Regions from separate parts of the Homo sapiens genome. Here all the other regions are linked to region 1. The links come from fine-mapping of genetic effects on gene expression. A gene starts in region 1. Each other region holds a variant in brackets. All regions are shown on one strand. Distances are between the middles of the regions. Region 1 holds the start of LETMD1 (LETM1 domain containing 1). Region 2 has its middle 7.1 kb from the start of CSRNP2. Region 3 overlaps TFCP2 (transcription factor CP2). Region 4 overlaps ACVRL1 (activin A receptor like type 1).

The links. PIP is the estimated chance that this variant, and not a neighbour inherited with it, causes the effect. A credible set is the group of variants that fine-mapping cannot tell apart.
Region 2: its variant is the best candidate, but not a certain one, in a credible set for the expression of LETMD1 in monocytes after LPS (Fairfax 2014, PIP 0.56).
Region 3: its variant is the best candidate, but not a certain one, in a credible set for the expression of LETMD1 in whole blood (TOPMed, PIP 0.70).
Region 4: its variant is the best candidate, but not a certain one, in a credible set for the expression of LETMD1 in tibial nerve (GTEx, PIP 0.83).

Annotation. Positions count from the first base shown.
Region 1 is chr12:51,045,064-51,050,989 of GRCh38, forward strand. LETMD1 (LETM1 domain containing 1) reads left to right here and starts at 3,264. Exons shown (of 9, transcript NM_015416.5): 1 at 3,264-3,415; 2 at 3,971-4,122. The coding sequence starts at 3,294. RefSeq lists enhancers at 2,539-2,658, 2,709-2,788, 2,879-3,148, 2,970-3,508, 3,259-3,308 and 1 more.
Region 2 is chr12:51,087,703-51,093,628 of GRCh38, forward strand. No RefSeq gene overlaps it. Among named protein-coding and RNA genes, the nearest start is that of CSRNP2, 7.1 kb to the left of the region's middle. The variant AT/A (reference allele first, on the strand shown) is at 3,009.
Region 3 is chr12:51,145,635-51,151,560 of GRCh38, forward strand. The region is part of intron 1 of TFCP2 (transcription factor CP2); the gene reads right to left. Among named protein-coding and RNA genes, the nearest start is that of TFCP2, 25 kb to the right of the region's middle. The variant C/T (reference allele first, on the strand shown) is at 2,635.
Region 4 is chr12:51,909,713-51,915,467 of GRCh38, forward strand. ACVRL1 (activin A receptor like type 1) reads left to right here. Exons shown (of 10, transcript NM_000020.3): 2 at 2,758-2,823; 3 at 3,387-3,638; 4 at 3,847-4,058; 5 at 4,262-4,361; 6 at 4,727-4,873; 7 at 5,513-5,755. The coding sequence starts at 2,763. Among named protein-coding and RNA genes, the nearest start is that of ACVRL1, 5.1 kb to the left of the region's middle. RefSeq lists enhancers at 3,611-4,444, 5,090-5,755. The variant C/G (reference allele first, on the strand shown) is at 3,191.

The sequences.
Region 1 (5,926 bases):
GTGTGTGTGTGCGTGTGCACGCGCGTGTGTGTGTGTGTGTGTGTGTGTGTGTGTGTGTGTAGCGGGGGAAAGGGGGAAGAGGCCTAAACACTAAATAAATATCTCAGGAAAGGGCTGGGTGCAGTGGCTCAAGTCTGTAATCCCAGCACTTTGGGAGATCAAGGCAGGGGAATTGCTTGAGTCTAGGAGTTCAAGATCAGCCTGGCTAACGTGGCAAATCTCTATCTCTACTAAAAACACAAAAATTAGCTGGGCGTGGCGGCATGCGCCTGTAATCCCAGCTACTTGGGAGGCTGAGGTGAGAGGACCACTTGAGCCCAGGAGATCAAGGCTGCAGTGAGCCATGATGGGGCCACTGCACTCTAGCCTGGGCGACACAGCGAGACCCTATGAAAGAAAGAAAGAGAGAAAGAGAAAGAAAGAGAGGAAGGAAAGAAAGAAAAGGAAGGAAAGGAAGGAAGAGAAAGAAAGAAAAGTCTGAGGAATGACCTGTGTTCCTGCCACATTCTTTCATTGCATGAAATGCCTTCCCCTCTACTCCATCCTTTCAGACACAGTTCCTTCCTATTTTCTCCACAAAATTCTGATTTTGTCTCCTTTCCAAGAGAGTTCCAGAATTTTAGAGCTGAACATTCTTGAGTAGTTGACATGACTCAGAAGCTACCTGAAGATGGCTGGGCACGTTGGCTCACGCCTGTAATCCCAGCACTTTGCGAAGCTGAGGTGGGCAGATCACCTGAGTTCAGGAGTTCGAGACTAGCCTGGCCAACATGGTGAAACCGCGTCTCTACTAAGAATACAAAAATTGGACTGGGTGTGATGGCTCACACCTCTAATCCCAGCACTTTGGGAGGCCGAGGTGGGAGGATCACGAGGTCAGGAGATCAAGACCATCCTGGCTAACATGGTGAAACCCCGTTTCTACTGAAAATACAAAAAATTAGCCAGGTGTGGTGGTGGGCACCTGCAGTCCCAGCTACTCGGGAGGCTGATGCAGGAGAATGGTGTGAATCCGGGAGGCGGAAGTTGCAGTGAGCCGAGATTGCGCCACTGCACTCCAGCCTGGGCAACAGAGCGAGACTCCGTGTCAAAAAAAAAAAAAAAGAATACAAAAGTTGTCTGGGCATGGTGGCGGGCGCCTGTAAACCCAGCTACTTGGGAGGCTGAGGCAGGAGAATCACTTGAATCCGGGAGATGAAGGTTGCAGTGAGCTGAAATTGCGCCACTGCACTCCAGCCTGGGTGACAGAGTGAGACTCTGTCTCCAAAAAAAAAAAAAACAAAAAAAAAAACTACCTGAATATGAAGACCATGTCTTAGTCAACTTTTTTTTTTTTTTTTTTTTTTTTGAGACAGTCTCACTCTGTTGCCCAGGCTGGAGTGCAGTGGTGCGATCTTGGCTCACCTCAACCTCCGCCTCCTGGGTTAAAGCGATTCTCCTGCCTCAGCCTCCCGAGTAGCTGGGATTACAGGCGCCCACCACCACATCCGGCTAATTTTTGTATTCTTAGTAGAGATGAGGTTTCACCATGTTGTCCAGGCTGGTCTCGAACTCCTGACCTCGGGTAATCAGCCCGCTTCGGCCTCCCAAAGTGCTGGGATTACAGGCATGAGCCACGGCGCCCAGCCGTCTTAGTCAACTTTCTATCCCGTCCACCCCATCTACCCAACACTTGTGAAGATCCAGGGCCATCTTTTAAAACTTTTCCTCTGACTGCACGAGTGGTACAGTCATTAATAACCTGTGCTAATATAAAGCTCTGTGACCCATAAAGCATTATACAGATGTGGGAGCTTTCACAGCTGTATTCTCTTTGGATCCTCAAAGATTTCTTATAAAGTAGGTACTATTATAAGGGAAATAAACTCAGAGCTAAAGTGACATATCCAAGGTAACATTCACTAAAACAAACGTCAATGCCAAGATTGAACCTATATCCAGGGAACCCACATGGGATGCTCTACCACCTTCCATGAAGAATAAATATTCATATATATCCAAGAGGACTGTTAATTCTTGGAGGCAGTTAAGTACCACTTCTGGGAATCCTTCTTAGTTTCAAGTATGAATCTATTCAAACATGTTTACTGAACACCTACTATGTGCTAAGTAAGGCACCTAGTGTTGGAGGTGCAGCAATGAACAAGGCAGAGAAGATGCTTACCCTCATTCTAGTTCAGGGAGCTGTCAAACAAGGACACAAATACATAAACACTGTAAGTGACAGATGCTACAAAGAAAATACAAGGCCGGGTGCAGTGGCTCACGCCTGTAATCCCAGCACTTTGGGAGGCCAAGGCTGGCGGATCACTTGAGGCCAGGAGTTGAAGACCAGCCTGACCAACATAGTGAGATCCCGTCTCTACTAAAAATACAAAAATTAGCCGGGCGTGGTGGCGGACGCCTGTAATCCCAGATACTCGGGAGGCTGAGGCAGGAGAATCGCTTGAACCCGGGAGGCGGAGGCTGCAGTGAGCCAAGATCGCGCCACTGCACTCCAGCCGGGGCGACAGAGCAAAACTGTCACAAAAACAAAACAACAAAACAAAACAAAACAGAGTAACATGAGAATAAGTGTGAAGTGTGTCCTTTTCGCCGGCACTGCTTCAGATAGGGTGGTCACAGAAATCCTCTCAGAATAGTAACATTTAAGTTGAGACAGAGCTTGGTCTTCGGTAGGTGCTTAACGAAAACCATTTTCCCACAAACTTAGTTCTGGAAACGACAAAGAGAGGAAAAAGTGTACTCAGTCCGCACAGGGGCCGCTCCCAGGCCTCCAACCTTCGCCGCCAGACTGACTGGAAAGTGGACAGTTCCCGGCCTATCCACGCCGGCACCATTAGAGGGCGCCGCGGGTCCTCCTAGCCCCAGGCACTGGCAAACTGACATCTGCTACCTAACAGTCGAGGCTCCGACGCCCCGAGTCCAGGCAGAGGGCAAGGGCGGCGCTGGGAAGCCCTGAGGCCCTAAGGAATCGCGGAGGGTCACTGGGCGCCTCAAGGACAGGGTGCCCTCCGCGTCGCAAACCCACACCAGTGGCATAAGAACTCGCTCCCTCTGGGACACCCTGTTTCCGGCGCCTTTAAACCTGGAAGTACTGCTGTGTCCAATCCTGGCCCTCCTTCCGCACTTAGTCTTTGAGTCCTTCCCTCTCCTGGCTTGTGCTGGAGCCAAGCAGGCTATGGCTACCAATCAGCGCTCAGAAAAGACGCATGCGTCTTCGAACGAACGCGACGTACGGTTAACTTTGACCCAAAGACAACCTCTTCTCTCCCGCTTCTCTCGCTGTGAAGATGGCGCTCTCCAGGGTGTGCTGGGCTCGGTCGGCTGTGTGGGGCTCGGCAGTCACCCCTGGACATTTTGTCACCCGGAGGCTGCAACTTGGTCGCTCTGGCCTGGCTTGGGGGGCCCCTCGGTGAGGGACCTGTAGCGAGAAAAGCATTTTTGACGTCCAGGCTCTTTCAGTGTCTCAACCTTGCTTGCATTCTGTCTCTTAATTCTCAGAGTTCCACGCCTTGGCCCTGGAATTTTTATTCTTCTGTTCAGGATTCAAACTCCGATCCCCACTAGTGACCCGGCTTCCTGACCCTCTGTACTCTCAGTGCCCCATATTGTCTGGTTTCCCCGCGTGTCCTGAGCTCATCTTTCAGCCTCACTTTTTCGGCTCAGGTTTTACCGCTGCTATCTCGATTCCACCTCTTTCTGACTTAGCCTGCAGTTCAAATTGTCCCACAGGCATTGCGCTCTCTCCAGAGGCATACCCTGAGTTACTTTCCTGCCTGGCCTTTGCCTGATTTGTGTTTCACAGTCTGATTGCCTATCTCTTCTTGACCCCAAGACCTTCCTTGGATTTCAGAAGTGTCAAGCCTTGGGATACAATCTCCGAGACTCCTGCTTTACATTAGGGACTCAAGGCGTGAGGGAGCTTCTAGGACTGATTCCCAGATAGTCTCTTTGATCTTCCTTGTAGGTCTTCAAAGCTTCACCTTTCTCCAAAGGCAGATGTGAAGAACTTGATGTCTTATGTGGTAACCAAGACAAAAGCGATTAATGGGAAATACCATCGTTTCTTGGGTCGTCATTTCCCCCGCTTCTATGTCCTGTACACAATCTTCATGAAAGGTAAAAACGAAACTACAATAGAAATTCCGGAATCAGCTCTTGGGCAGGGTCAAAGAGTTAGCATAAATAAGATCATTTGCAGGTTCTGCTATGGGGATGTGAGCCGAGATATCTTATATTTCATAAATGCCTGCGCCTTAAACTAATTCCTATAAATTAGCACTTCTTGAGAATGTTTCTAGAAAGATGTTATGAGAAACAACTTATGACAGCAACATGAGGGAGGGAGAATATAGGTATGTTCTCGTACTTTCTTAACCACACACCTGGCTATAGTAGAAATTTTTTGCCTTGCACACGGCAGGGATCTGTGGCTGTATAGACCTGCCCTGTGATGTATCAGTTGACTTACCCATAGGAAAATGAGGTCTAACCCTTGTTATGAATCTATATTAGGTAGTATGTTGTAGTGGCAATAGCCCTACATAATACTTGGTTTCTAAATGTTTTGTTTCAAATCAGAGATCCTTAGTTACTAGGAGAAGATATGTATCGTGTCAAGTGTCTACTCTGGAGCCAGATTGCCTGATTCAAATCCCAGTTCGTCACTGTGCGATTGGACTAATTAATTAACCCCTCTTTCCTTGGTTTTCTTATGTGTAAAATGGGAGTAATGGAACCTACCTATTTATCACATGATTGTGAAGACTTTAAAAATTGATACATGTAAAGTACCTAGAACAGGTCCTGATCCCTAGTAAGTGCCAAGTAAATGTTAACTTATTTTCATCTAAATGTTACCTAACAGTATTATAAGTTGGTGCAAAAGTAATTGCGGCTTTTGGCTTTCAGTGGCAAAAACCACAATTGCTTTTGCACCAAATCTATAATATGCTCTATGCTTTTATCATAACACTATAATAAACTACATTGTCAAATCTGAACATTATCATAATTATTACTAGCTTCATGGACTTGAAAAATTACTTATCCTTAATTTGTAGAGATAAAATTGGCTGCTTTTTCTGTTTTCATGTAGATAAATAGGATCAAATGAGAGAAAGGGATGAAAGCATTTGTGTTTGTTTTTAAACTTTTTATTATGAATTTTTTTTTTTTTTGAGTCTCACCGTGTCGCCCAGGCTGGAGTGCAATGGCATGATCTCGGTTCACTGCAACCTCTGCTTCCCGGATTCAAGCAATTCTCCTGCCTTAGCCTCCCAAGTAGCTGGGAATACAGGCGCCTGCCACCACACCAGGCTAATTTTTTTATTTTTAGTAGAGGTGGGGTTTCACCATATTGGCCAGGCTGGTCTCTAACTCCTGACCTCGTGATCCGCCTGCCTCGGCTTCCCAAAGTGCTGGGATTACAGGCTTGAGCCACCGCGCCCGGCCAACTATTATGGAAATTTTTAAACACACACAGATGTAGAGAGAGTAGTGTAACAAACTTCCATGTATTAACCTCACTTCATTATCATAACTCATGGCTGCCAATCCTATTTATATACTTGCCTTATGTATTATTTTGAAGACAATCGAGACATCATATAATGACATGTAAATCATTGATAAATATGAAAGCATTAAAGAAATAGATGCAAGAAGCCGGGCGCGGTGGCTCATGCCTGTAACCCCAGCACTTTGGGAGGCCGGGGCGGGCGGATCATCTGAGGTCGGGCGTTTGAGACCAGCCTGACCAACATAGAGAAGCACCGTCTCTACTAAAAATACAAAATCAGCCAGGTATAGTGGCACATGCCTGTAATCCCAGCTACTAGGGAGGCTGAGGCAGGAGAATCTCTTGAACCTGGGAGACGGAGGTTGTGGTGAGCCAAGATCGCACCATTGCACTCCAGCCTGG
Region 2 (5,926 bases), 43 kb after region 1:
ACCACCAAAAGATAAACGAGAACACATTCCCCAGAGAGGTGAAAATAAATAGGACAGAGGATATAATATGTTGAAATTCTTAGAGAAAAAGAGTTAAAATAAAAATCTAAGGCATTGTGTTTGTTTTTCTGAAAAGGTATCTGTAGACTTAGCCCTAAAGTTGTTATGCTACTTCACTAATTGACATTTAATTATATTATATTCCAGATCTAGAGAGACAGGCACCTCTTTGTGACTAATTCCACACTAACAAAAAGAGAACAGTATGTGTAAATCTGAGAAAAAGAGTGCCACAGCAAACTGAAAGCACAAACACCAAAGAAGTCATATGCGCCATTGCACTCCAGCCTGGGCGACAAAAGTGAAACTCTGTCCTCCCACCACACAAAAAAAGGAAAAGAAAACAAGAATCTACATTAATTAAAATGTGCACCTCATCTTAAACATATCTAATACATGAAAACAGAGATTCGCATAATAGGTAAACCAGTTATAACTCATGTCCCAAAATACCATATCAGTAAAAAATAGTACAATAAGACAACAAATAATACAATAATATTAGTTTAAATAGCAAGTTCCCTTATAATTGATATTAATCCAATTGAAAACTTTAATTCATATAAACTTTTCAGTGTCTGAATTTGAAAATGCAAATGCTAGACTTACTTGAAATTTTTGGCCAGGCGCGGTGGTTCATGCCTGTAATCCCAGCACTTTGGGAGGCGCAGGTGGGTGGATCACAAGGTCAAGAGTTCGAGACCAGCCTGGCCAATATGGTGAAACCCTGTCTCTACTAAAAATACAAAAATCAGCCGGGCATGGTGGCAGGCGCCTGTAATCTCAGCTACTTGGGAGTCTGAGGCAGGAGAATCACTTGAACTCGGGAGGCAGAGCTTGCAGTGAGCCGAGATAGTGCCACTGCACTCCAGTCTGAGTGACAAAGCAAGACCCCACCTCAAGAAAAATAAATAAATAAATAAATTTTCAAGCAAGATAGATTTTAGCTTAGGCCTATGTTCACAAGGAACACTACAGGGGAAATGCTGTAGAGAATGTGTGAACAAAGACGTGAAAAGAAGAAGGAAGAAGTGGAAATAGATGAAAATTCAAGGTTGAAGATAAAATACAAGGTCACTAAAAGAACCAGGAAGGAGAAATAAAGTATGCAGAAAAAACAGTGCTGGTGGCATTACTCCCATGTCACAAAGGGCATCTTTCCCAACTCACTCCATTTTGCAGTGGTAGGATATTCTTCCTCATTTAAGTTTTGGAGTTGGTATAATGAAACAAAAATTAATCACAAACTAAAAGCAAGCATTCTAGCAGGGAAAGCCTTAACTCACAACTAAGAAAGTAGAGCATTTGCAGGAGAAGCAGAATGATGTAGGATTACTCCTAATGACATAATATATAGGCTGGGTGTGGTGGCTCACGCCTATAATCCCAGCACTTTGGAAGGCTAAGGTGGGAGGCTCGCTTGAAGCCAGGAGTTCAGATCAGCAAGGACCACATGGCAAGATCCTGTCTCTACGAAAAATAAAAATTAGAGCTGGGCACAGTGGCACATACCTGTAATCCCAGCACTTTGGATGGCTGAGGTGGGAGAATCGCTTGAGCCCAGGAGGTCAAGGCTGCAGTGAGCTATGATGGTGCCACTGCCCTCCAGCCTAGGCAGCAAAGTGAGATCCTGCCTCAAACAAAACAAAACAAATTTGTTGGGTGTGGTGGCACATGCCTGTAGTCCTACCTACTCAGGAGACAGGCGAGAGGATCACTTGAGCCTAGGAGTTCAAGGCTACAGTGTGCTATGATCACACCACAGCCTGGGCAACAGAGCAGGACCCTGTCTCTTAAAAACAAAAAAAGAAGCTAAGAAAGAAATAGGCTGGGCGCAGTGGCTCATGCCTGTAATCCGAACACTTTGGGAGGTCAAGGCTGGTGGATCACTTGAGGTCAGAAGTTTGAGACCAGCTTGTCCAACCCGGTGAAACCCCGTCTCTACTAAAAATATAAAAATTAGCTGGGCGTGGTGGCACATACCTGTAATCCCAGCTACTGAGGAGGCTCAGGCAGGAGGATCGCTTGAACCCAGGAGGCAGAGGTTGCAGTGAGCTGAGGTCGCGCCACTGCACTCCAGCCTGGGTGACAGAGACTCTGTCTCAAAAAAAAAAAAAAGGAAAAAAAGAAAAAAAAAGAAATATATATATATATATATAAATGGGGCAGCTAGGTGGGACAATTGTGCCATTCCTACTGAGACTGGAGTTCTCATAAGACCCATGGCGGCCATAACAGATCAAATTCCTGTAGAGGAACCATCCGTGACCAAGGAAGCAGACCAATAATTCAGTAAAATGATAAAATGGTTCTTCAATTTCAGTTCTCCTGTCCCCCCAAATCTGGAATTGTTAGGTTTGGCCAGAGAAAAAAGCTACAAGAGGGAGAAGCTCAATCCTGACTTCAAATATTTGGACTCTAAATTGCTTTCAAGACTGAATACCGAAGCTCTGCTCAGCCCTTCATGGTGATTTGCAAGACAGTTCAAATCTCTGCGGTAACCCTATACAAAACACTTTCTCAGAATATGTGGGGATACACAGGGTTTTGAGAACACTCCTCCATTATGCATACATTAGAAATGGTTGGTGCCATTATCTCACACCTTCTTTACTTGCCAAGCTTCCCCCGGAACCTCCAGCTCAGAGATCATACTCTGCCCGCACAACATACCCAGTACCTGGACTTCCAGGAATCAGAACTTCAGCCCCTTCATGTGGACCTTACTTTTTTGTCACGTCTTGGGTTGTCTTTTTAAAATTTCTTTTTTTAGATAGAGTCAGTTTCTTTTTCTCTCTCTCTTTTCTCTCTTCTCTCTCTCATACAGGCTGGAGTGCAGTGGCACAACCTCCGCTCACTGCAACCTCCACCTCCTGGGTTCAAGCAATTCTTGTGCCTCAGCCTCCTGAGTAGCTGGGATTCCAGGCACCCACTACCACGCCCGGCTA[AT/A]TTTTTTTTTTTTTTTGTATTTTTAGCAGAGACGGAGTTTCACCATGTTGGCCAGGCTGATCTCAAACTCCTGACCTCAGGTGATCTGTCCGCCTCAGCCTCCCAAAGCGCTAGGATTACAGGGGTGAGCCACCACGCCCAGCCATGTTTCCTCCATTTATATGACTTCTTAAATAAATCATTTACGTGGGCAAACATTCTCATTGGGCCATAACATTGAACAGTCAATCTCATTACTCAACAGCCACATTTCACGTACTGACTACTCAATCCTTAGAGTCCTGCAACAACTTCCCTCCCCTTTTATTAATATTTCGCAATAACTCCCTTTTAATTATCAAGTCTTTATACAGCAGATTTTTCTACATGGAACCTATTATACTTCAAAGGAGTACAGGCAATGGTAAGTCAAATAGGATGCTACGCCTCTTCTCTAAATGGCCTAGGCCGGTATGGTGGGTGGCTCACACTTGTAATCCCAGCATTTTGGGAGGCTGAGGCAGGAGGATGCTTGAGCCCAGGAGGTCAAGACCAGTATGGGCAATATAGGGAGACCCTGTCTCTACAAAAAAATACAAAATTAGCCAAGTGTGGTGGCACACACCTGTAGCCCCAGGTACTTGGGAGGCTGAGGTAGGAGGATCGCTTGAGCCTGGGAGGCAGAGGCTGCAGTGAGCTGAGATGGTGCCACTGCGCTCCAGCCTGGGTGACACGCACACACAAAAAAAGATGCATGTTCAAATATATGTGACCTAAATGGCATCCATACAGAATAACCAGTTTTTAAAAAGAATGATGTAGAACTAAAAATTCTAGTATAGTAAGATATTCAAGATATGCTAAATACAAAAATCAAATTGCAGGTCATTAGTATAACATGAGCCCATCTGTGTGTGTGTGTGTGTGTGTGTGTGTGTGTGTATGTGTGTGCATGTGTGATGGGGGAAATTCTTTGCAATGATTACCTCTACAGAGTGGGACTAAGAGGTAAGGGGGAAAGTTATATGATACCATTCTTTATTGTTTGAATTTATCATTCTGTGTATTACTTTCATAATGAAAAAGCTAGTATAAAATTTTCACTTAATTGAAAGGATTATTAGTGAACATATGCAATGTTTTAAAGCAAACTGAATAATTACAGTGTTCTAGCACTATGCCAATTCTTACCAATTATACATCACTGGCACAATAAAAATTTTTTGTAGCTAAAGAAAGCCTAAGAGATTTTCTGGTAAATTTAAGGATCTATAATTTCAAAGTTGTATAAGTTCATTTCCATAAATTCGAAGACTACTCTAAAAAACCCTGACTTCAGGTAAAAATAGTTAAGTGTAATTTATAGTCAATATATTAATAAAGGCCAGGCGTGGTGGCTCATGCCTGTAATCTCAACACTTTGGGAGGCCAAGGCAGGAGGACTGCTTGAGGCCAGGAGTTCAAGACTAGGTTGGCAACATGGTAAGATCCTGTCTCTACAAAAAAACATTAGCAGGGCTTCGTGGTGTGTGCCTGTAGTCCTAGCTACTTGGGAGGCTGAGGCAGGAGGATCACTTGAGCCTGGGAGTTTGAGGCTGCAGTGAGCTATAACTGGCACTGCACTCCAGCCTGGGTGACAGAGGGAGATATAATTCTTGTTTTGTTTTCTTTGAGATGGGGGTCTTACTTCGTCACTTAAGCTACAGTGCAGTGGCATGATCACAGCTCACTGCAGCCTCCAACCCTAGGCTCAAGTAATCACTGCCATACCTGGCTAATTTTTTTAACTTTTTGTAGAGATGGGGGGGCGGGTCTCACTTTGTTGCCCAGGCTGGTCTTGAACTCCTGACCTGGCTTAAAGTGATCCTCCCATTTTGGCCTCCTAAAGTGCTGGGCTTACAGGCATGAGCCACTGTGCCTCATCTATATATTTAATTTTATGCATCATTTGCAGTAAGAGTCACAAATGCAAAGATTTGGAAGAAACCTTAAAAGTCACCTAGCCTTGGGCCAGGTGCGGTGGCTCACACCTGTAATCCCAGCACTTTGGGAGGCCGAGGTGGGTGGATCATGAGGTCAGGAGTTCAAGACCAGCCTGGCCAACATAGTAAAACCCCATCTCTACTAAAAATAGAAAAATTAGCATGGCATGGTGGTCCGTGCCTGTAGTCCCAGCTACTCAGGAGGCTGAGGCAGGAGAATTGCTTGAACCCGGGAGGCAGAGGTTGCAAGTGAGCTGAGATCAGGCCATTTAACTCCAGCCTGGGCAACAGAGTGAGACTCCGTCTCAAAACAAAAAAGTCACCTAGTCTTGGCCAGGCACGGTGGCTCACACCTGTACTCCCAGCACTTTGGAAGATGAGACGGGGGATCACTTGAGCCCAGGAGTTCAAGACCAACCTGGCAGGCAACACAGTGAGACCTCATTTCTATATTTTATTTTATTAAAAAAAATTTTTTTGAGACAGTCTTGCTCTGTCACCCAGCCTGGAGTGCAGCAGCCTGATCTCAACTCATTGCAACCCCACCTCCCAGGTTTAAGCAATTCTCATGTCTTAGACTCCCAAGTAGCTGGGATTACAGGTGTGTGCCACCACGCCCAGCTAATTTTGTATTTTTAGTAGAGACAGGGTTTCACCATGTTGGCCAGGCTGGTCTTAATCTCCAGGCCTCAAGTGATCTGCTTGCCTCAGCCTCCCAAATTGTTGGGATTACAGGCATAAGCCACGGTGCCCAGACTCATTTCTATATTAAAAAAAAAAAAAAAGAAAAAGGCATCTAGTCCAACTTTCCTACCCAAACACCTAGACATAAAAAAAAAAAAAAAAAAAAAAAAAAAAATCCAAACCAATAGCAGCCTGCTGAGGAAAGAACTGAGGTTGAGAACCAGTACTAGGAATATAAGACAACCAGATACGTCTCCTCCTCAAAATGGAGA
Region 3 (5,926 bases), 100 kb after region 1:
ATTCATAAATTATACTAAGTTAAGAACTTTAGGCCAGGCATGGTGGCTAATGCCTGTAATCCCAACACTTTGAGGTAGGTCAAGGTGGGAGAACTGCCTGAGCCCAGGAGTTTGAGACTAGCCTCAGCAACATAAGGAGACCCCCGTCTCCACAAAAAATACAAAAAATTAGCCAGGCATGGTGGTGCATACCTGTGGTCCCAGCTCCTTGACAGGCAGAGGCAGGAGGATCACTTGAGCCCAGGAGTTCGAGGCTGCAGTGAGCTGTGATTGCCACTGCACTCCAGCCTGGTCGACAGAGCAAGACCCTGTCCCTTCCCCCTCCCCACCAAAAAAAGAACCTTAGAACCAAAGACACATAAAGAGAGGGAAATGACAAGCCACAAACTGGCAGAATATACTGACTACATACAAAACTGACAAAAGATAAGTATCTAAAATATTTTTGAGGCTGGCCATAATGGCTCACACCTGTAATCTTAACACTTTTGTAGATTACTCCGTCTCTACAAAAATAAAAAATTAGCCAGGCATGGTGGCATGCTCAGCTGTTGTCTCAGCTACTCGGGAGGCTAAGGTAGGAGGACTGCCTGAGCCCAGTAGTTTGAGGCTGCAGTGAGTCAAGCTTGTGCCACTACACTCCAGCCTGGGTGACACGGCGAGATCCTATCTCAAAAAAAAAATTAATAAAATATATTTAAGATTCCTATAAATTAATATGAAAAAGGCCAAACCTCCCTCCCCCACCCCATACCCCCAAAAAACTCAAATACTTACTTCTTAGGAGAAAACATCAGTGGCCCACAAACATATGAAAAGGTGCTGGCCTCATAAGAAATTAGGAAAATACAAATTAAAACCACAATAAAATACTATTCCACACAAAAATTACAACAGTGAACAATTAAAATAATGGCTAGGATGCAGAACCGAAACACCTGACCTCTAAGTATACTAGAACAATAATTTAGCATTATCTTGTAGGAAGATACAGCAAGCTCATAATCCAACAATTCCATTGCTCCTATAATCCCTCTGCCTGGAATATATTTCTCCTCCACCTTTGCAGGGCCAAATCTTACCCTTCTTTCAGATACCACCTTAGGAGGCAGAAGTAGTATTTCTGTGTTCTGAATTCCTATAGCACTTCAAGTGCTTTTAGCATATTTATTTCCAGCCTGTATCACATTTATTTATATACATGTCTTATCTTCTCCATCAAATTGTAAGCAAATGAAAGACAGAAACCTGTTTATTTAGATTCAGCACCTGCATATGGGAGCATATGGTGAAGACAAAGCTACAGAATCAAGTTGTACAAAACCAAGTACATAGTAGGCACTCAAGTGTTTGCTGAATGATAGAGTAAAAATCTGCTTAGTGACTGAGGGAATAAACCAGGATTTGCTGTGCATATAAAACATTAGGCCGGGCACAGTGGCTCACGCCTGTAATCCCAGCACTTTGGGAGCCCAAAGCAGGCAGATCACCTGAGGTCGGAAGTGCGAGACCAGCCTGGCCAATATAGTGAAACTCCATCTCTACTAAAAATACAAAAATTAGCCAGGTGTGGTGACACATGCCTGTAATCCCAGCTACTCGGGAGGCTGAGGCAGGAGAATCACCTGAACCCAGGAGGCAGAGGTTGTAGTGAGCCGAGATTGCGCCACTGCACTCCAGCCTCAGCAAGACTTCATCTCAAAAAAGAAAGAAAGAAAGAAAGAAAGAAAATTAAACCATTGGTGAAAGGAAAACTGGAACACCAATTTGTGTACACAAAGTCCCAAGTTTATTCTGTTAGGTTCTACTTGAGGCATAGTGAGAGTCGACTATCAGCAACAAATGGAAACTACTATGAACAAGGCAGATAAAGGGAGACCAGGATAGGAAGAGGTGGGGGGGGAAAGAGAGAAGGTGACAAAGTAGAGGGAAGGCTGGGATAACTGGCAAGCCACATGTAGGAGAATGAAACTGGATCCTCATCTCTCACCTTATACAAAAATCAACTTAAGGTAGAGCAAAGACTTAAATCTAAGACTTGAAACCATAAAAATTCTAGAAGATAACATTGGAAAAAACCCTTCTAGACACTGACTTAGGCAAAGACCTCATGACCAAGAACCCAAAAGTAAATGCAACAAAAACAAAGATAAACAGATGAGACTTAATTAAACTAAAAAGCTTCTGCACAGCAGAAATAATCAGCAGAGTAAAGAGACAACCCACAGAGTGGGAGAAAATCACAATCTATACATCTGACAAAGGACTAATATCCAGAATCCACAAGGAACTCAAACAAATCAGCTAGAAAAAAAACAAACAATCCCATCAAAAAGTGGCTAAGGATATGAATAGACAATTCTCAAAAGAAGACATACAAATAGCCAACAAGCATATGGAAAAATGCTCAACATCACTATCAGGGAAATGAAAATCAAAACCTCCATGCAATACCACCTTACTTCTGCAAGAATAGCCATAATCAAAAAATTAAAAAAAAATAGATGTTGGCATGGATGTGGTAAAAAGGGAACACTTTTATACTGTTGCTGGGAATGTAAATAGTACAACCACTAGGAAGAACAGTGTGGAGATTCCTTAAAAAACTAAAAGTTTATCTACCATTTGATCCAG[C/T]AATCCCACTGCTGGGTATCTACCCAGAGGAAAAGAAGTCATTATATGAAAAAGATACTTGCACACGCATGTTTATAGCAGGACAATTTGCAATTGCAAAAATATGGAACCAGCCCAAATGCCCATCAACAAGTGGATAAAGAAAATGTGGTGGCCGGGCGTGGTGGCCCACACCTGTAATCCCAGCACTTTGGGAGGCGAGGCGGGCGGATCACAAGGTCAGGAGTTTAAGACCAGCCTAGCCAATATGGTGAAACTCCATTTCTACTAAAAATACAAAAATCAGCCAGGCGTGGTGGCGGGCGCCTGTAGTCCAGGCTACTTGGGAGGCTGAGGCAGGAGAATCACTTGAACCCAGGAGGAAGAGGTTGCAGTGAGCCGAGATTGCACCACTGCACTCCAGCCTAGGCAACAGAGTGAGACTCTGTCTCAAAAAAAAAAAAAAAAGAAAAAGAAAAGAAAATGTGGTATATAGGCCAGGTGCAGTGGCTCACATCTGTAATCCCAGCACTTTGGAAAGCCGAGGTGGGCGGATCACCTGAGGTCAGGACTTTGAGGCCAGCCTGACCAATATGGCGAAACCCTGTCTCTACTAAAAATACAAAAATTAGCCTGGAGTGGTGTCAGGCACCTGTAATTCCAGCTACTCAGGAGGCTGAGGCAGGAGAATCTCTTGAACCCAGGAGGTGATGGCTGCAGTGTGCCAAGACTGCGCTGCTGCACTCCAGCCTGAGCAACAGAGCAAGACTCCATCTCAAAAAAAAAAAAAAAAACAGAAAGAAAGAAAATGTGGTATATATACACCATAGAATATTACTCAGCCATAAAAGGAACGAAACAATGGCATTTGCGGCAAGCTGGATGGAACTAGAGCCCATTACTCTAAGTGAAGTAACTCAGGAATGGAAAACCAAACATCGTATGTTTTCATTCATAAGTGGGAGCTAAGCTATGAGGTACAAATGTTTAAGTATAATACAATGGACTTTGGGGACTCAAGGGGAAAGCATGGGAAGAGGTGAGGGGTAAAAGACTATACATTGGGTACACTGTACACTGCTCAGGTGATAGGTGCACTACAATCTCAGAAATCACCACTAAAGAACTTATTAATGTAACCAAACACTACCTGTTCCCCAAAAACCTTAAAAAAAAAAGTAGAAGGAAGGAATGGCAGCACTGCTGCTTTGTAGGTTGTTTTCCATAATAAGAGGAGGACAAGAAAAGTGTAGGAAAGCAAAGAAAATTTATGAACTTACAGTAAAAAGGAGTAACAGCATAACTTAAAAGAATGAAGAAATAGATTACGTGTTAGATAAATTTTTTCTTAATTTTTTTTCTTTTTTTTCGAGATGGAGGCTCGCTCTGTCACCCAGGCCAGAGTGCAGTGGCACGATCTTTGCTCACTGCAATCTCTGCCTCCCAGGTTCAAGCGATTCTCGTGCCACATCCTCCTGAGTAGCTGGGACTACAGGCATGCATCACCACGCTCAGCTAATTTTTTGCATTTTTAGTAGAGACGGGGTTTCGCCATGTTGGCCAGGCTGGTCTAGAACTCCTGGCCTCAGGTGATCCACCTGCCTCAACTTCCCAAAGTGCTGGGATTACAGGGTGAGCCACCGCACCTAGCCTTTAATTTGTTATAAGGTATTTTAGACATAAAAAAGATAAAACAGTGTAACAAATGACTGTGTACACTCTAGGCAGCTTAAGATACAGCATTAACAGTTGAAGCCCCCTATATTTTTCCTCAGTTACATCCCCTCCAACTCCCAGAGGCAACATTATCCTGAATTTGCACTTAATCATTCTCAGCATGTCTTTATATTTTTACAGCAGTGCCATCTTTTAAAAAGTAGTGAAGTATGGCTGAGTGCAGTGGCTCACGCCTGTAATCCCAGCACTTTGAGAGGCCAAGGCAGGCGGATCACCTGAGGTCAGGAGTTTGAGACCAGCCTGGCCAACATGGCGAAACCTCTTCTCTACTGAAAATACAAAAATTAGCTGGGCGTGGTGGCAGGCACCTGGAATCCCAGCTACTTGGGAGGCTGAGGCATGAGAATCGTTTGAACTCGGGAGGCGGAGGTTGCAGTGAGCCGAGATTGTGCCACTGCACTCCAGCCTGGGCGACAGAGCGAGCCTCCATCTCGAAAAAAAAAGAAAAAAAATTTTTTTTAAAAAGTAATGAATTAAAAATTCTTTTTAATTTTAAAATTTAAAAAGTAATGGATAACGTTTGCAGCAAAACAGGGCGAATCTCATCTAAATACACTGTCCATCATAACAGACTTAGAATGAAAGGGAAAGTAAAGAACAGTAACAACTGACCAACTCTGAGACAAAGAGAGAAGATTTGGAAGATGGACAGATGATAATTGAAGTGGGGAGAAATGAAGAAAAAAAGTACTGAAAAATCACAGCAAACAACAACAACAAAAGGGCAAAAATCAGTCTCAATAAAGAGACTTAGGTCTCAATGAAGAGAGATAGTTGCCTCAGGAACTGCTATAGTACTTGCCTTTTTTAAGAAAATGGAGATAGTGAATTCATTCATTCAACACATCAGCGCAAACTACTTATTAGGCACTATTCTAACAGTAGGCAGAGGGTAGAGAACAAAAGAAAATCCCTTCTTTTATGAAGCATGAAGTTGGGGAGAGAAGCCAACAAATGAATTACACATCAGATGTTAGGGAAGAAATAAAGCAGAGGGGGTAAAGAAAGCAAGGAGTGCTGGTGAGGGGGAGGAGGCTCTTGCTATTTTACGTGAAGGACATTAGAAGGCCTCTCTGATAAAAAGACATGTGAGCAGAAACCTAAAGGAAGTAAGGAACATACAGGAATGTTTCGGGAAGAGTAACTGCAAATGCAAAGACACTGAGGTGAGACTGGAGCCCTAAGACCAGGTGCGGCTGCAGCAGAGCAAGCCAGGGGAAGAGTATATTCAATGGCTGGAGGAGCAGACCATATGGATCCTTGACAGACCTGTGGCTTTTATTCAGTGAGATGTGAAGCCACTGGACAGTTTTTAGGAGAAAAGTAGCATGATCTGATGAACATTTTAAAGAAAGTGATCATATAATTTATCACTAAAACAGGTACACCTTGGTGAGTGAGGAAGGGTGATATTAACAGTTACCTTAGGACAGTATTAATAAGACCTAATTTTTTGTTGTTATTGTTGTTGAGACAGAGTCTCTCCCTGTCGCCCAGGCTGGAGTGCAGTGGCGCGATCTCGGCTCACTGCAAGCTCTGCCTCCCGGGTTCACGCCATTCTCCTGCCTCAGCCTCT
Region 4 (5,755 bases), 860 kb after region 1:
GTGACTATGGACAAGAAACTGAACATCTCTGAGCCTCACTTTCCCCCGTTGGACTGTTGTGATGATTAAATCAGATAAACCATTCAAGTTCAGTACTTAGCACATAATTAGTACTCAGAGAAGGTTAACTGTTATTATTAAGTATTTCATAGTGTTTAGCTAACGTTTGAAATTAGTTTAACGTCTGTAATTTCTGGCCAACAATAGTGATGCTTCTGTCAGCAGGAGATCTTTCACAAAGTTTTGCTTAGAAGTGAAAGGATCCTGCCAGGCCCCAGGAGTCTGTCTGTGCTACAGTCAGATTTCAGGGTAAATCGTACAGAGTCAGCTCTGAGTTTGGACTGGTCGGGACTCAGCATCCTCCTGTACTTGATCTCACACTGGGTCCAGTTAAAAATTGGACAGTCCCAATTTTACTCCATCACATTCCCAGGATTAGACCATAGATGGGTTCTGCAGATGCAGACAGCCTCGCTCCACAGTGTCACCACGTCCCAGCTTTGGTGTTTACCCTTGGCTGTCCCTTCTGTAGTAGATGGGGAGTATCCTGGGTGGGAGTGAGTGTCCCCTCCCTCTGCATCCCACTCCCACTCACCCAGCAGGGCCCTGTACAGCAAAATGAAAGCAGAGGAACCAGACTTAGCGTTGTGCCCACACAAACTGATCAGAACTCCCTGGGGAACTTTTAAAAAATGCATGTTTCTTGCTGATTCCAGGACTGAATCAGAGTCTGGAGTGAGGGTGAAACCAGTGAATATGCTTTTCTCAGTGAGCACTTCAGGTGATTCTGATGCGTGATAAAGTAGAAGGAGGGTGGACTGGGGCACGGCCAGAGAAGTAGAGGTACGGACAGAGGATCCTAGAGGAATGCCGGATTTTAGCCTTATTGTTAGCCACTTTTTCCTTTCCACCTCAAACCCTCTCCTTTGCAGCTTTCTGGGCTAGCAAAGGCTGCCAAGGATGGCTTCCTGCTAGTACCCCAGTGGGCAGATTCAGCTCCTCTAGGGTGCTCTCTCCATCCCATCCCACCGTCAGTCCTGCCGCACAGTGCTAGCCAGAGTCCTCACTGGCTGCGGGAGGGGCAAGAGGCAGGAGGTCAGGCAGAGGCTGGGGACACAGCTGCAGCAGCCCAGGGCTCTGTTTCCTCCCCCAGCCTGGGCCTCTGGGGCAGAGGAAGCCCAGGCAGGAAGGCCAGGCCTGCCACCAGCCAGAGAGGCCTATGAAGCCCCCCTACCCCACCCCTAGCCATACTGCCCTCAGAGCCTCAGCATCTTGGGTCTTCATTTGGCACCATTCTTAGACTATGGGCTTTCTGAAGCCTCTGTGGCCATGTGCCCAGCCCTGTCAGGCTCACCATGTCATGCCAAAGGACAGTCTCCCTGCCTTGTGCCCTGCCTGAGGATCCAGTCCCCAGACACACACCTGCACATGCTCCACCATTCAGAAAGTCCTGTTGCTGTCTGACCAGGGTCCTTCTTGCTGCAGCTTTAGCCAATATCTTCTGGTTCTAAACCTGTGAGAAATGAAGACTGGGTGGCTTCAGAAGCACTAGTTGGTGTGGGACCTGGATTGGGGACTATCATAGACCAGAATTACTCCCCCTAACACTCTCCAACAAACTTCTGGAAAAGTTCAACCCTAGTCAGCCATGGAAGGTCAAACATTCAGTGTCTAAGTGTGTTTCACTTCCCCTGCCACATCACTGGCCCTCCACCCACCCTTTCCTAGATGGCAAGGGGAAAGAAGGGGGCCAGGGAACAGCTCCGAGAGGGCAGCTTATACTCTGGTGAGCTTGCAGAGAGGTTTCTCTACACCTGGCATGACCCTGCCCCGTCCGAGCTTTGCATGGTTGTTATAGCCCTGAGGGCTCAGACATGGGCTGCCACCACTGGATAGGGACAGAGCGAAGAGAGCACTTGATTAGGAGTCTGGAAACCTGGGATGTACGCCTGCTGGTGCCAGTGAGTCCTGTCTGACCCGGGACAAGTCTTCTTCCCTGTATGAGCCTTACTCCTCTCTTCTGTAAAACAAGGAGCTGGATTTTGTGATTCACAGGATGTCCACCTAGAATTCTGTCATGTGGGTGTCCCAGGCACAAGGAACTAAGGGTAGCAAGGAACTAAGGGCATATTTAAAAAGCCCCTCCAGACCTTGTGGCTGCTGCAGCCCACCCTGAAAATATGCCCTCAGTTCCCTGCTGTGCGTGACTCCTGCCTGTTCTATCCAGACCCCAATCTAAACAATCTTGATTCCTGTTCCTGGCTTGGCAGGACCCTGAATGGCAGGAAGCGAAGACAGGAGCCTGTTTATGTTTGAGGCAGCCAGGGCTGGGGGGGCATTGAGAAAGGGTAGGCAGGGGTGGAAGCTGTGAGGGAGTGGGAAAGAGACACAGAACAGAAGGGGAGCTGCTGGAGAGATGCTCCTTCTACCCCAATTGGGTGCTCCCTGCGGCTCTCCCAACCTGCCTGCAGTCTGAGCTCAGCAGCAGGAGTGCAGAGCTAGGGTTTCCCCAAGCTCTCAGTCACTTAAACATTGCTCTCCACCCTTCACCTCTAACAGGATGGTTTCCATGGGGAAGTGAACCAGGACTTCCCCTGCAGGCCCCGCCCCAAAGCCAGGCGGCAGGGAGTAGGGAGGCGGCCTCCCTGCCTCCCCTCCAAAAAAAACTCTGTGATTTCCTCTGGGCAGGAGGGAGCCACGGCCAGCGGCTGTCACACTTCATGGCTCTTACTCCACCTCTCTTGCTCCTCTCTGCAGGGACCATGACCTTGGGCTCCCCCAGGAAAGGCCTTCTGATGCTGCTGATGGCCTTGGTGACCCAGGGTGAGTACTGGGGGAGCAGTTAGGAAACAGGAACCTGGATACAGAAAGGGCTATCTGGGCCCAGATCAGCTCTGCCTGGGGCTGAACTTGAGAAGCTGGGGAGAATGTAGGAGCTTGACTGGAGAGTGGAGGACAGTGAGGCTCCATTAGACTCAGTCCCCAGCTACCCCAGCCCTCCTTTGCTCTCCTCTTGATCCAGACCTGCAGGCTGGAGCTCTGTCAGACTAGGGTGGAAGCCTATATGTGGGGTGGAGGGAGAGCAGGTGTTGGCAGGCCAAGCCTGGGAGAGCACTCAGGGCTGGGGCTGGGGGCCCAGCCCAGCCTAGAACTGGGAGGGGAGGACCTAGGAGCCAGGAGGGGACAAAAG[C/G]CTGCTTTTCAGAGTGTCAGCTGCTCTGAGGGGAGGGTTCTGAGGGAAGGATGACTGAGGATGAAAGTAAGAGACCAAAGCTTCAAGGTGTTTGTCTGAGGGGTCAGACGAGAGGGACAGTAGGACAGAAATGGGTGTCGGGCTCAGCCTGGGGGAGCTGGGACCACAGTGGCTGAGCTTCCGGTGTGTCTTCCAGGAGACCCTGTGAAGCCGTCTCGGGGCCCGCTGGTGACCTGCACGTGTGAGAGCCCACATTGCAAGGGGCCTACCTGCCGGGGGGCCTGGTGCACAGTAGTGCTGGTGCGGGAGGAGGGGAGGCACCCCCAGGAACATCGGGGCTGCGGGAACTTGCACAGGGAGCTCTGCAGGGGGCGCCCCACCGAGTTCGTCAACCACTACTGCTGCGACAGCCACCTCTGCAACCACAACGTGTCCCTGGTGCTGGAGGGTACGTCCAGCTGCCCTAGCACTCCCTCCCCATCTTCTTGGCCCCTGCCCTCCCTTCCCTCCTTTCCTCTCATGCTCTGGCCAATAAAGGGGCTGGGGGCGGGGGAGCGGGTGGGCAGGACTCTGGGATCTAACTGGCAGAGTGGTCTGGCCCGAGGTGGGGGGAGCTGACCTAGTGGAAGCTGAGCCTCAGTGTCCCCCTCCCTCAGCCACCCAACCTCCTTCGGAGCAGCCGGGAACAGATGGCCAGCTGGCCCTGATCCTGGGCCCCGTGCTGGCCTTGCTGGCCCTGGTGGCCCTGGGTGTCCTGGGCCTGTGGCATGTCCGACGGAGGCAGGAGAAGCAGCGTGGCCTGCACAGCGAGCTGGGAGAGTCCAGTCTCATCCTGAAAGCATCTGAGCAGGGCGACAGCATGTTGGGGGTATGGGCCTGGGGACCTGGGACACAGGGTGTAGGAGGGGCAGATAGGAACTGCAGAATCAGAGGGGTCACCCAGAGATTAGAGCCGGTGGGGAGCTGGGCGAGTGAGGAGCTTGCAGTGACCCAGCAGGTCCCAGGTCGAGGATAGAGAAGGGGGCTGTGGCTGGTTGTGGCAGCCTCTCAGTGGCCTCTCCGTACCCCCAGGACCTCCTGGACAGTGACTGCACCACAGGGAGTGGCTCAGGGCTCCCCTTCCTGGTGCAGAGGACAGTGGCACGGCAGGTTGCCTTGGTGGAGTGTGTGGGTGAGCAGTGGGTGAGCCCGGTGGATGAGGACCAAGGGCTCTCATGAGCCTGGAGGGGTGAGGGAGTTTTTGGCTACTGGAATCACAGGCGGTGCCAGGCCTGGGTCAGAATTGGAATTCTGCTGGGCAGGGAGTGGGCTGGAGACGGGCCAGGGCTAGGTTCTTCTTTCTGCAGGACCGGGGTGGAACGAGAGGCAGCTGGGGGTGGCCTGCCACTGGGTTTGGGTCTGGATTAAGTTAAACCTAAGGGTCTGGGGTTCTGTGGGTGGGGTGGGCGAGGGAGGCAGCGCAGCATCAAGATGGGGGGCTCTTCCAGGGCTCTGTGTGCCCAGTGTGTAACCCTCACCTTCCCCTCTGGCCATCAGGAAAAGGCCGCTATGGCGAAGTGTGGCGGGGCTTGTGGCACGGTGAGAGTGTGGCCGTCAAGATCTTCTCCTCGAGGGATGAACAGTCCTGGTTCCGGGAGACTGAGATCTATAACACAGTGTTGCTCAGACACGACAACATCCTAGGCAAGGGGAGAGGCCAGCTGTGCCAGGCCTGGGGCTTTGCCCCCCTGCACTCAGGGCTCAAGTTTGCAGACCTCCAGACATTAACAGAACCCTGAAGGACTCTCAGCCCACCTGCAGCATCAACCTCTTTTTTTAATTTAATTTAATTTAATTTAATTTAATTTAATTTAATTTAATTTTTGAGACAGGGCCTCGCTCTGTCACCCAGGCTGGGATGCAGTGGTGCAATCTCACTGGAGCCTCAATCTCTTGAGCTCAAGTGATCCTCCCACTTCAGCCTCTTGAGTAGCTGGGACCACAGGCATGTGCCACCATGCCCAGCTAACTTTTTTATTTTTTGTAGAGACGAGGTCTCCCTATGTTTCCCAGACTGGTCTCAAATTCCTAGGCTCAAGCAGTGCTCTTGCCTTGGCCTCCCAAAGTGTTGGGATTACAGGTGCAAGCCACTAAGCCAGGCCCAGACCCAACCTCTGACTCCAGCTCTGTCTCTGACCTAAGCCACATCAACCCCCACCCCCAGACCTAGCTTAGCAGTGACCCAGTCCATTCCCTCTCCCCCAACCCCACCCTGACCCTGACGACTCCAGCCTCCCTTAGCCCCAGCCCCTTGGCTGAGTCACCCAACCTTTCTGCACACAGGCTTCATCGCCTCAGACATGACCTCCCGCAACTCGAGCACGCAGCTGTGGCTCATCACGCACTACCACGAGCACGGCTCCCTCTACGACTTTCTGCAGAGACAGACGCTGGAGCCCCATCTGGCTCTGAGGCTAGCTGTGTCCGCGGCATGCGGCCTGGCGCACCTGCACGTGGAGATCTTCGGTACACAGGGCAAACCAGCCATTGCCCACCGCGACTTCAAGAGCCGCAATGTGCTGGTCA